Linked DNA regions of Homo sapiens: regions 2, 3 and 4 are each reported to be linked to region 1. The links are microRNA targets in miRTarBase. Many come from high-throughput screens and were not tested one by one. Region 1 holds a microRNA gene; each other region holds the end of a gene's coding sequence.

The links. Region 1 holds the annotated microRNA hsa-miR-564 (AGGCACGGUGUCAGCAGGC, at 2,249-2,267, opposite strand). A microRNA usually pairs through its seed, bases 2 to 8, with sites in the 3' UTR of a target mRNA and lowers its output. Matches are read on the target gene's strand: a 7mer-m8 pairs with bases 2 to 8, a 7mer-A1 pairs with bases 2 to 7 and ends in A, and an 8mer does both.
Region 2: miRTarBase lists TMED4 as a target of hsa-miR-564. The part of its 3' UTR that is shown has no 7-base or 8-base seed match.
Region 3: the mRNA of RCAN3 is a reported target of hsa-miR-564. The part of its 3' UTR that is shown has no 7-base or 8-base seed match.
Region 4: the mRNA of MGAT4A is a reported target of hsa-miR-564. Seed matches in the 3' UTR shown: 7mer-m8 at 3,047-3,053.

Annotation. Positions count from the first base shown.
Region 1 is chr3:44,861,059-44,864,169 of GRCh38, reverse strand. It overlaps MIR564 (microRNA 564), which reads right to left and starts at 2,282; the gene lies at 2,189-2,282. TMEM42 (transmembrane protein 42) reads right to left here and starts at 2,258. Exons shown (of 3, transcript NM_144638.3): 1 at 2,054-2,258. The coding sequence starts at 2,245. It also overlaps a transcript of KIF15 not described here. RefSeq lists silencers at 1,749-1,798, 2,129-2,178 and an enhancer at 2,209-2,798.
Region 2 is chr7:44,576,773-44,579,883 of GRCh38, reverse strand. It overlaps TMED4 (transmembrane p24 trafficking protein 4), which reads left to right. Exons shown (of 5, transcript NM_182547.4): 5 at 256-1,990. The coding sequence ends at 405. Among named protein-coding and RNA genes, the nearest start is that of TMED4, 3.9 kb to the left of the region's middle.
Region 3 is chr1:24,534,586-24,537,696 of GRCh38, reverse strand. It overlaps RCAN3 (RCAN family member 3), which reads right to left. Exons shown (of 5, transcript NM_013441.4): 5 at 1-2,604. The coding sequence ends at 2,420. Among named protein-coding and RNA genes, the nearest start is that of NCMAP-DT, 20 kb to the left of the region's middle. RefSeq lists enhancers at 1,149-1,238, 1,065-1,714, 1,715-2,366, 2,341-2,400, 3,017-3,111.
Region 4 is chr2:98,623,068-98,626,178 of GRCh38, reverse strand. It overlaps MGAT4A (alpha-1,3-mannosyl-glycoprotein 4-beta-N-acetylglucosaminyltransferase A), which reads left to right. Exons shown (of 16, transcript NM_012214.3): 15 at 344-456; 16 at 587-3,111. The coding sequence ends at 613. Among named protein-coding and RNA genes, the nearest start is that of UNC50, 16 kb to the right of the region's middle.

The DNA of each region.
Region 1 (3,111 bases):
CGTCCACCCTGGGCAGCAACCTGCAGACCCCCTCAAAGCACACCCAGGACTGTGGTTGCTGGCACCCAGGCTCCTACTGAGCTCCCACTACAGCTCAGAGGGCCTCAGAGCTTTCCTGCACAGGGCTTCACTTAACCCTCAGTGGGCAGCAGACCCATCTTACAAATAAAGCAAATTCAGAGAAGATACTCATTTGGCCACCTTGCTGGCCATATGATCTTGGGAAGAAGCAAAATGCTAATCCAAAGCCAGTATTTTCTACTGAACACCGGCCCCTTATTGGTCCCACAATGACCAGTGCTTGAAGATCAGTCCCAGAGGGCCAAGTAGTTCTTACTCCGTAGGTAGTAAGCCTAGGGTAGAGTTCTTATTTCTTGAGATCAGGCAAAGCATGAATTAGCAATGTCTGCTCTGTATTCCCACCCCCAAATCCTATACAAGTTACAGCCCACTAAGGCTGACCCCCTCTGGGTATTCTTGAGCTTTTACTCTGTGTTAGGTCCTGGGCTGTGTTTAAGCATTCTCATTTATTCCTTAACTTCATTTTACAGATAAAGAGCCAGGGGCATTAAGTAACCTTCCTAAAGTGCTACAGCGGTGAGAGCCACCAGGCTTCACAAGCAGGCAGTGTACCTCCATGCTCTTAACTAGGGCACAGCCTTGCCTGAGGGAAACACCACCTCAGACTATTTAGTGATCCCAGACATCCCTTGGAGAACTTGCAGGTATTTTCTTTCTTTTTTTTTAAAGGAGAAAGTCTCAAGAGAAGAGAAGATCTTTAGAAGCCTCCTACACAAAGGATATGCAGTCCCCCTTGCTTGGTGGTGAGTTAGAAACCTGCCTGGAGACAAGGCGGCGGGGGGGGGGGGTGCGGAATCTAAATATACTTATTACTTGTAATGGTTTCTCAGCAGCTGAACACATAGTGTCTTGAGAAAAAGGTGCTTGCTTATAACTTACACCAGGGTGTTCAATTTTTTGGCTTCCCTGGGCCACACTGGAAGAACTGTCTTGGGTCACACATATAATACACTAACACTAATGATATATGATGAGCTAAAAAAAAAATAATAAATCGCAAAAAAATTCATGTTTTAAATTTGCAAATTTGCGTTGGGCCGCGAGTTGGACAACCTTGTCTTACACAAAGCAGCATATGGGCCAGTGGCAACCTGCTTAAAGGGTTATGAAGGTCTAGTTCCTGACAACAAACTTCACGGCCCATACAAAGTTATTCATTTTACTTTCGACCACTTACCCCATGAACTACACCCAATGGGATACTAACCTGAAGCATGGCAGCTACTACTGGATTAGCCCTAAATAGGCTTAACCCTAAATAATCAGTGACCACTGTCCAGGTCAGAGGCTAACCTTGGGCTGCAGACGCAATGAAACCCCTATAGCAAGCAGAGGCTGGTCTACGACGTGGGAGGGAGAGGCAGAGATACACCTTAGCAGACGCCAGGATGCAAGTTTAGGAGTTCTCAGCGTCAGGAAAACATCCAGAACGTCTCTGTCAGTATCCTCTTATGCCTACAGTATCCCAAACTCCCAATTTTCCTGGTAGTGGGGCAGACTGGTCATCTGGTCACAACACCCGTTAATTACGGAGTAAAGGGATGGGCAAGAGGCTTCTCACCTTAAGAGTCACGTGGAGAGAAATGCTCAGGCACAAGGGACTTAAAATGAGAGGTAGAGGGTGGATGTAGGAGGTGTAGTTCTTCCCCGAGAGCGAACTAGCCCAACCGGAGAAAAGGTTTTAGGTCCCTGGTAAGGGAAGAGGCCTCAGTCCCCGACGTCTCTTACCACCTACACTGGACGAGGGTTTGGCGTGATTAGAGGCGAAACACTCTCTGCCACCCCAGCTGACCGCAGCGCCGCCCGCGGCCCGGGGCCCCGGCGGGACAGACCGGCGAGGGTGCGGCGGCGCCCTGCGCCCACCCCCGCCCCACCCCAAGAGCCCCGCGGGCCCCGCAGCGCCCCTCCTCCGCCCAGCGGCGCCCCGCCCGCCCGCCCGCAGCAGCAGCACCAACAGCGCCCCGGGCTCGACCTCGCTGCCGAAGGCCAGCTTGGCGGAGGCGGCGGCCAGGGCCCCGAACGCGCCGGCGCACAGACAGTTGAATACGCCCCAAAAGCGGCGCCGCATCGCACCCGCCTGGAGGTGCGGAGGGAATTCCGCGGGGGTGTCAGGGTACGCGGTCGCGGACACGGCGCCGCCCGGAGGCCCCGGCCTCTCGGCCATGTTGCCTGCTGACACCGTGCCTGGCACCCGCTGCCCGCAGGGCAGAGCGCGCGCCGCGATTGGATGGCAGCCTCACGTGACGCGACGCTCCTGTGACGCCACGCTCCGGCAGGCCCCTTGGGAATCGCTCTCCGGCGCCTCGGAGGGGGCGGGCCAGGTGGCAGAGACCCTGGGCTGTGGCGGCCTCCGGCCTAACCTGTAGTAGGTTTGTGCTCTGGGGAGGACGTCGGGACCCGAGGCCTGAGGCCAAGCCGGGTACTGTGGACGCTGTGGTAGAAGGTAAACTTCTCGCGGCTTAGCCGTCTCCATCCCGGCCACCCGGCTCCCGGTGAAACTTATTAAAGATGCCTAACGGGCCCCGCGCCGGCCCACCGAGTCCATCCACGTCGACCAGGCTTCTCCGCTCCACCCTCCAGCCTGAGGACCGCCGGACCAAGAGATGCCTCGGCAGAGGGCGCTGGGGACCTCCAGACCCAGAAAGACGCCAGAGCCCCATATGGGGACAAGCGCATCACAGAAAACCGAAAAAATGAGGATCTGCGATGAGAGGAAGACAATGATCCATAATCAAGCCACGCAGAATCAACATGACTTCTAATCTCCTGTTATACTTACGTATGTTTAGAATGTTTCCGGCTGGGCGTGGTGGCTCATGCCTGTAATCCCAGCACTTTGGGAGGCCGAGGCGGGTGGATCACCTGAGGTCGGGAGTTCGAGACCAGCCTGACCAACATAGAGAAACCCCGTCTCTACTAAAAATACAAAATTAGCCGGGCGTGGTGGTGCATGCCTGTAATCCCAGCTACTCGGGAGGCCGAGGCAGGAGAAGCGCTTGAACCTGGGAGGTGAAGGTTGTGGTGAGCTGA
Region 2 (3,111 bases), not on the chromosome of region 1:
CCTACCTGTTTTTCTTGGACTCTTGTTGGAAATGGTAGGATCATGATTTCAGTCCTAACAGAGATGCTTGTGGAGGGACAGCCTGTCCCTTTCTTGGGGCAGCCTCAGTGGGGAGACCATAGCACTCCTAATGGAGTCACAGATAGTATTCCAAAAGGAGTTTGGTCCTGGAGTTGAGTAATTACACGCAGGGAGGGACCTCACAACAGCCAGACTGTTTCTCCTGCTCACTTAACCCTGTGTTGCCCCACACAGTATCGTGAAGAGCGCTTCCGACTGACGAGCGAGAGCACCAACCAGAGGGTCCTATGGTGGTCCATTGCTCAGACTGTCATCCTCATCCTCACTGGCATCTGGCAGATGCGTCACCTCAAGAGCTTCTTTGAGGCCAAGAAGCTGGTGTAGTGCCCTCTTTGTATGACCCTTCCTTTTTACCTCATTTATTTGGTACTTTCCCCACACAGTCCTTTATCCACCTGGATTTTTAGGGAAAAAAATGAAAAAGAATAAGTCACATTGGTTCCATGGCCACAAACCATTCAGATCAGCCACTTGCTGACCCTGGTTCTTAAGGACACATGACATTAGTCCAATCTTTCAAAATCTTGTCTTAGGGCTTGTGAGGAATCAGAACTAACCCAGGACTCAGTCCTGCTTCTTTTGCCTCGAGTGATTTTCCTCTGTTTTTCACTAAATAAGCAAATGAAAACTCTCTCCATTACCTTCTGCTTTCTCTTTGTCCACTTACGCAGTAGGTGACTGGCATGTGCCACAGAGCAGGCCCTGCCTCACTGTCTGCTGGTCAGTTCTGGGTTCACTTAATGGCTTTGTGAATGTAAATAAGGGGCAGGTCTTGGCCCTAGAGGATTGAGATGTTTTTCTAAATCTTAGAACTATTTTTGGATAAATTATATATTTTCCTTCCTAGTAGAAGTGTTACTGCCTGTAACTAGCTCAAAATACCAATGCAGTTTCTGCATTCTGGGTTTTGTTTTTCCTTTTTTTTTTTTTTTTTTTTTTTTGAGTTTTGCTCTTGTCGCCCAGGCTGGAGTGCAATGGCGTGATCTCAGCTCACTGGCAACATCTGCCTCCCGGGTTCAAATGATTCTCCTGCCTCAGTCTCCTGAGTAGCTGGGATTACAGGTGCCCGCCACCACGCTCAGCTAATTTTTGTATTTTTAGTAGAGATGGGGTTTTACCATGTTGGCCAGGCTGGTCTTAGACTCCTGACCTCAGTTGATCCACCTGCCTCAGCCTCTGCATTCAGTTTATTCACATATTTTTGGTAACTCCCATGGCAGCTCCTAGGATTTCAGCGGTCTGTGGGCCAGAAAGCAGGCACCAGGGCTGACCTCAAGGCCGTATCAGAGGGCCAAGCAGAGTTCTTTTGGATACCTGCTTTTCATCCCACAGGGCCTTAGAGTCAGAGGTAAGGTAGCAACAGAGCTAGAATGGGGCAATGCACTCTTACCCTCCTTCTCAACTTTTATTTAAGCTGTGCTAAATGTTTTCTTCAAGGGAACCAGATTTAGTTCTTTACAGAATTTTCCAGTGAAATAAAACATGTTGTAATAGCTGTGTTTGAGATGAAATAAGAGGTTGTGGGTAGAGGGGAGGCACCTAAAGGAAAAGAGGAAAGGTGCCTGGGCTACCTATGCAGATAACCTGGAGTGGACTTCACTGTGGACTCGTGGTACTAAGGCTTGGCCTGGACAGGCAGTCTAGGGGGTATGGGAATACACGGTGTGGTTGTTCAACTATTTGCAAAGGTCAACCAAATAGACCACATGTTCGCAAAGTATCATCTGAGGAAATTAAGTACCTTCTTAGCCCTCTCAGTCATAAATTTGAACAAATTTTAATACACTTCCCTCATGCCCTTCTATATAAAACTTAATACCATTAGTTCCCCATTCTTGACATTTTATTTCAGTTTTTATTATATATTTATTTGAAATATTTATTAAATTATCTGACCTACAGAACTAAATTCTTCTCCTTTTGTTATTTCTTATGTCCTATACCATATATGTACCTATTTATATATATATTTATGTATTTTTAAAATTTTTATTTATTTTATTTTTTGAGACAGTCTTGCTCTGTCGCCCAGGCTGGAGTGCAGTGGCATGATCTTGGCTCACTGCAACCTCTGCCTCCCGGGTTCAAGCAGTTCTGCCTCAACTTCTGAGTAGCTGGGATTACAGACACCCACCACTACACCCGGCTAATTTTTGTATTTTTATTTTATCTTATTCATTTATTTATTTTTGAGATGGAGTCTCACTCTGTCGCCCAGGCTGGAGTGCAGTGGTGCAATCTTGGCTCACTGCAACCTCCACCTCCTGAGTTCAAGAGATTCTCCTGCCTCAGACTCCCGAGTAGCTGGGATTATAGGCGCCCGCCACCATGCCCAGCTAATTTTTGTATTTTTAGTAGAGACAGGGTTTCACCATGTTGACCAGGCTGGTCTTGAATTCCTGACCGCAGGTGACCCGTCTCGCCTCCCAAAGTGCTGGGATTACAGGTGTGAGCTGGCCGGGCACAGGTGATGGGGTCTTGCTCTGTCCCCAAGGCTGGAGTGCAGTGGTGCCATCACAGCTCAAAGCAACCTTGAGCTCCCAGGTTCAAGTGATCCTCCTACCTTACCCTCCCAAGTAGCTGGTACTACAGGTATACTCCACTGTGCCTGGCTATTTTTACTCTTAAAAATACATGTGGGCTGGGCACGGTGGCTCACGCCTGTAATCCTAGCACTTTGGGAAGCCAAGGTGGGTGGATCCCTATAGCCCAGGAGTTCGAGACCAGCCTGGGCAACATGGCGAAATCTTGTCTCTGCAAAAAATACAAAAAATTTAGCTGGTGGCACATGCCTATAGTCCCAGCTACTTGAGAGGCTGAGGTGGAAAGATCACTTGAGCCCGGGAGGTCAAGGCTGCGGTGAGCCATGATCGTGCCACTGCACTCCAGTCTGGGCAACAGTGATCCCATCTGAAAAAAAAAAACAAAAAAAAAAATGCAATTTAGGGCCAGGTGGGGTGGCTCACGCCTATAATCCCAGCACTTTGGGAGGCCAAGGCAGGGGGATCGCCTGAGGTCAGCAGTTTGAGA
Region 3 (3,111 bases), not on the chromosome of region 1:
GAACTCCTGACCTCAGGTGGATCCACCCACCTTGGCCTCCCAAAGTGCTGGGATTATGGTGTGAGCCACCACACCTGGTCCTATCAGGGTTAAATCCAAGTAATAACTCAATTTCAAAAAAATTGCAGAAAAGCCTATTAAAAGAAAAAAAAAACCATGAGACTTATCTCTTGTAAATTTGTTACATGAACTAGATATTAAACAGCCAAAAAAGGACAGCGATGATAGTATCTGTTAAGATCCTGGTTCATTTCACAATATGAAAAAGTTGATGGGTACTTAGTAGCTTTTTTAAAAAAATTCATTTTATTATATTATACTAGAAAAATGAAAATATTAATACTTTCCATTCAGAAAAGCTTAAATGACTCGTCTCTAATTTTGGTTTAAAGTTTTCTTCAATTTATTCAAGGCTCTCAAAAAAAAAATAGAAAAGCACTGTAATTTGCACTGCTTGACTGTAAAATGTTTTATGTGTTAGGAATAGAATATTCTTTAATGGGCAGGCAGAGAATGAAAGCCAAGCCAAATAACAAAATCTCATGGGTTTTGATCACTTAGAAAATTACAGTGAATCAATATTACCTAAAAGGAAATTCAAAAAATTCCCAATTGTTGATAATACATGTCTCCTGGCATACAGGGTCCATCTTGCAGTAAAAAATGGGCACAATGCTGAGTTCAGAACTGCAGAGTAAATTTATTGGGTGGTTGTCGGTTAAAATGACAAATGATGATCTGAATTCAATACATTAAATTGCTGATAGAATTGCAAATTTCAACTGAATTTACATTGAGGCCTAGCAGTGGTAGTTGGCTACAACTGGAACAGTTTATCACCTCAGGGTATTTGAGGGCAAGGAAGATACAGAAAAAAAAAAAATTAGGGGTATGCAACACAGTTTAAGTGCTCAGAAATAAATTTTACCACAGTGAGAACGAAACCACAATGACATGTTACTAACACTGTGCAGACGTCATGGTTGAATGCCTGCGTTCTGTTCCTTCCTGGTGGCAGCCGCCTTGGTTCATTAGTTCTCATGTTTGCAGCTCCTTCACATGCCCCGGAGCTTCCCAAGTGTGCCACTCAAAGGAAACAGCACAGTGAGTGGAGGCCAGCAGACCCACCCGGCCCAAAACAGAGCCTTCTCAGTTATGAGACTTTTCTACAGAAGGGACTTCAAAGTCTAAACAGACCAGAGAGAGTTAAAAAGATCCTGCTGCTTCTTAGGGAAGTTCAAAGGTACATTCTGACACCTAAGTGGGAAACAATTCTGTTTTAGGAAAAGTGCCAACTGCAATCCGGGTACAAAATTTCAACAAAAAGAAAAGTAAAACTGAATGATCTCCCCCTCATTCCCTAATTCATAGAAAAATAGTAGGTGTGACTTTTGTTTCAAAGCAAGCTGAAAAATGGTTAAATGGACAATTTACAAATGGTCTTCAGAAAACCTTATCATTACCTTTTCTAGTTGAAAGTCCATGAATGACATACATAAACGTACACATCATAGCCAAAAAACTCAAGAACTAGTGGTTAACAAGATACTGGAAAAGGTGAAGGATAAAAACTGGTGAATGAAGGTAGCTGGGTGGTCTACAGGCTAGAACACGGTCACGAACGGCAGAATGCAGTAGCCACCTGCGATCCTAATCATTCAAGCTTACTGGTGATACGTCCCACTTCTAAAGTGGCCGTCCTTCCTGGGCAGCCATGTCTGGAGGGCGCCACATCAGGAATGAGGGCCTGTGCATTGCTTTGTCCCAAATTCCAGATAAGAGCAACATGTGGGTGGATCTGTGTCGTAAGACTCATCCTCAAAGTGGATTTGGCATTTCTTCCCCAAAGCTAATTGAACAAATACTTGAGAACCATGATTTCTATGAATTATTCTGTATTTCTGGTTTCTTTTCCTGCAAAAAATTTCATGTATACTGAGTAACAACCTTTGATCGATTTATTAATTAGAAGCTATTTATACCAGTAGAAAAATACCCACAAACAATTAAAATTATAAGACTATTTTTAAATTCATAAAAATGGTACTGTACTGGGTGTGACTACATTTCCAGTTTTTGGTGTCTCATGTGATACAGAATCAGGAGGACTTACATGGCTGGAGGGGAGGGGAGCTGTTTTCCTAATTTGTTACTATTTAAAAATGGTTAAGGGTGGCCACATCTTGGGGGCTTCTCCTTTAATGTAAAGTCCCTTTTGGAATATCACTTAAAATCTGGGACAGGTCAAATCAGCTGCTACTCTACACGACCGTGTCTGCAGTACAGGCGTGGTGAGAAGACCTATACCTCACTCGGCAGAGTCTCACCTATGCTGTTCGCAGCAACGCATCGGCCGCAGGCACAGAGCGCCATGGCCAGAGCCCACCAGGGCAGCCGCCTCGCACCACAACCAAGGGCCTCACAGCGCGCAATCAAAGGTCTGGGGCTCATTCAACGCTGCGGTCGGAGGGTCGGGGCGCCTCGTCTGGGCAATTTTCTGTTTGGGGTTTTTTGTCTCTTCTTCCTCTTCAGTTTCACTTTCACAGACATGAACCACCACGCTGGGTGTCGACTCTGTTCCCGCGTGAAGTTCATATTTCTCTCCTGCAGAGGCAAACAAAATAACCATGACAAAAGCATCACTTCCAGCAAAAAGAACTCTTTTGTCCCTTGCAACTTTTTGTTCTACTCCTATTTTAATGGGTGATTCTTGTTCTTTAAATCTTTAAATACTATGTTAGAGTATTTTATCTTGTTTTGGTGTTAAAGATTTGATACTTTAAGGCTTGTATAAAATGTTGTTTCAGTACTGAAGTCTTGGGAGTTAAAATGCAAATGCTAATTATTGTTTTATGAATAATATGAGTTAATCTGTTTAATTAATTAATTTATTTATTTGAGATGGAGTCTCGCTCTGTCGGCAGGCTGGAGTGCAGTGGCACGATCTCGGCTCACTCCAACTTCTGCCTCCCAGGTTCAAGCGATTCTCCTGCCTTAGCCTCCCGAGTAGTTGGGACTACAGGTGTGTGCCACCACGCCCAGCTAATTTTTGTATTTTCAGTCGAGATGGTTTTTTTTTTTCTTTTTTTTGAGATGGAGTCTTGCTCTGTC
Region 4 (3,111 bases), not on the chromosome of region 1:
ATTATATTTTGGTAAGATTTAGGTAAATCACAATTTACAAAAAACCTATAGTTTAAAACATGGTTGATATAAGAACAAATATATTTTTGTTTTTTAATTTGTAGTGAGAAAAATTATAGCTCTGCCTAATTAAGTAAATTGTGAAGTTTTTAAATATGCACTTCTTCATGAAAAATATAAAAGCTGAATGAAAGTAGAAAGAAGGGGGAAAGAAATTACCTGTGCCCTGTCAAAAGACATCTACTAGAAATATTTTGGTGTATTCCTTTCCTGCCTTAACTCAGTGATATTTTATGTTTGCTTATCTCGGTGTATCCAACAAGTATTGATTTTTATTTTGAAGGAAAATTTGAGAATGGTGTTGCAGAAGGAATGGTGGATCCAAGTCTCAATCCCATTTCAGCCTTTCGACTTTCAGTTATTCAGAATTCTGCTGTTTGGGCCATTCTTAATGAGGTAAGCATATATCAAATCAGTGAAACAACTTAGAAACTACATTTTTATTATGTTTTTATTTTGTATTTAAGGCCTTTTTGGAATTGAGAATTAACAGCTTTATCATACCTTTTATGATTTTGTATTTCAGATTCATATTAAAAAAGCCACCAACTGATCATCTGAGAAACCAACACATTTTTTCCTGTGAATTTGTTAATTAAAGATAGTTAAGCATGTATCTTTTTTTTATTTCTACTTGAACACTACCTCTTGTGAAGTCTACTGTAGATAAGACGATTGTCATTTCCACTTGGAAAGTGAATCTCCCATAATAATTGTATTTGTTTGAAACTAAGCTGTCCTCAGATTTTAACTTGACTCAAACATTTTTCAATTATGACAGCCTGTTAATATGACTTGTACTATTTTGGTATTATACTAATACATAAGAGTTGTACATATTGTTACATTCTTTAAATTTGAGAAAAACTAATGTTACATACATTTTATGAAGGGGGTACTTTTGAGGTTCACTTATTTTACTATTATAGACCCTCTTTTATAGATTATCAGGGATTATATATATAAATATATAAATATACATAAAAATGTTATGGAATTAATTTATTAGAAACACTTAAGAAGTACATATTTTTGTGCAGTAGATTTTTGAATCGATACTTTTTTTGAAAACCAGTTTCCTTGCTTTTTTAAGTTCTTTCTATATTTTTCTTTGGAAATGCAAACATTACAAACCAATGCCATTTTTCAAATGCACTGCCATTTAAGATTGATTATAGATGGATTTCTTAATTGAAGTACTTTTATAATCACAGTGACTGAACAAAATATTTTCAAAGACATTTGTCATTCCTTAAAGCCAAGATTTTAAAGACTAATGTCCTTCCTGAGGGTTACTTTACTATACTGTGTATGGTGTATAGCCACAGAAAGTCAGTCTGATAAATTTTCAATGTGTAAGTGTGATGCATTCAACCCAGATTATTGTAGACTTAACTTATTATATTTCCTCTGATATGTAAAATGACAAACTCTTCTTTCCTTTTTAATCTTTGTCTTTAATCCATGAATTAGGTGCATTATCTGCTGTTGATTCTTTTATATCTGCACTCATTTTATGACGTCAGACAAAATGTTTTCTAGGTGTTGCTATTGTATGAGTCATAATTGGTATAATTTTAAAGAAAATTGTAATATTGTTTTTTGGTGAAATATATTATTAGTAGTATATTTTCCAAAATGATTTTATTGTAGTATGAACTGATAAGTGAGTCCCGTGTCCAAGAGACTGTATTTATTACTCTTAAACACGCTATTCCAAATGATATTACTACTATAAACAAAGAATATTACCGGTCTCAGCAATCAGTGATCTTTATAAAAGTACTTTTAAAAAATGATGAATTATCACCAGGCGCTGTGGCTCACGCCTGTAATCCCAGCACTTTGGGAGGCCGAGGCGGGCGGATCACGAGGTCAGGAGATCAAGACCATCCTGGCTAACACGGTGAAACCCTGTCTCTACTAAAAATACAAAAAATTAGCCAGGCGTGGTGGCAGGTGCCTGTAATCCCAGCTACTTGGGAGGCTGAGGCAGGAGAATGGCGTGAACCCAGGAGGCAGAGCTGGCAGTGAGCTGAGATCGCACCACTGCACTCCAGCCTGGGCGACACAGCTAGACTCCGTCTCAAAAAAAAAAAAAGATGAAGTATCAACATCAGTTCCCAGCCAGTCTGCTTGGACACACTGGGGTGCCACAAGTGGGTTGCAGGTTGGTTGCAGACGGGCAGAGATGGATTCTGCTGAGCTTTCAGAGTGACCACTGGCTGGGGCCTAGCGCTGGGGCAAGGTTCCAGCTGGCTGCCTCTAGCCTGGAGGAGCTTCATCTAGTTACCCAATGTGCTGAACCAACAGCATGAAATAGCATCATTTCCTGTGCTGTGTTACAAAGTGCAAACGTTTGGAAACACTGATACAGTACAATTATTTCCATCACTCCATGTTGTTATAATTTTTAGTTACTTTTCTTGATTGAAAAGTCAATCACATTGCCAAAAATGATTTTTATGTCAGTTAAAGGCCAGTTGAAATTTTTTTATTAGGATGTTTTAAATTTACTTTTCACTTTCTTGAATTTTTTTCTTCTCAAATTTCCTTGGCCCAGTGCCCATGAGCAAATTTCATTCAAAAACAGGAATAACCTTTTGTCATAAAATTTTGGCACCAGCTTGGTATACTAAATTACTGCAAAGATAACTGAGTACCAGAAGTAAAAATCTCTGCAGGTGGGCTTAGGAGTACTCTTGGGTCCCTGGTTCCTCAGTTGCCAACTCTGGTTTCATGAAGAAAGACCATGCTCTGAAAATCTAGGGAGGAGAAAGTTATTGCAGCACCTGGTGTGATTTGTTACAACTTCTTTAAAGACAGCCTGCCTGGCTAGCTTTTTCCTGTTTTCATGCAGTTTGCCCTCCCAGCATTGGTCCACCTGTTGTTCCCAAGAAACTCATTCTTGTTCCCAAGACTCCTTTTAGCCAAATCTTTCCTATCATTCCAGGACTTTTTTGTGCTTCTCTCCCCATGAATCTACCCGTGCCTAGGGTGTGTGCCAGGCACGTGGCAGGTGGCCAGTCAGCATCTGGATGTGAGACCAAT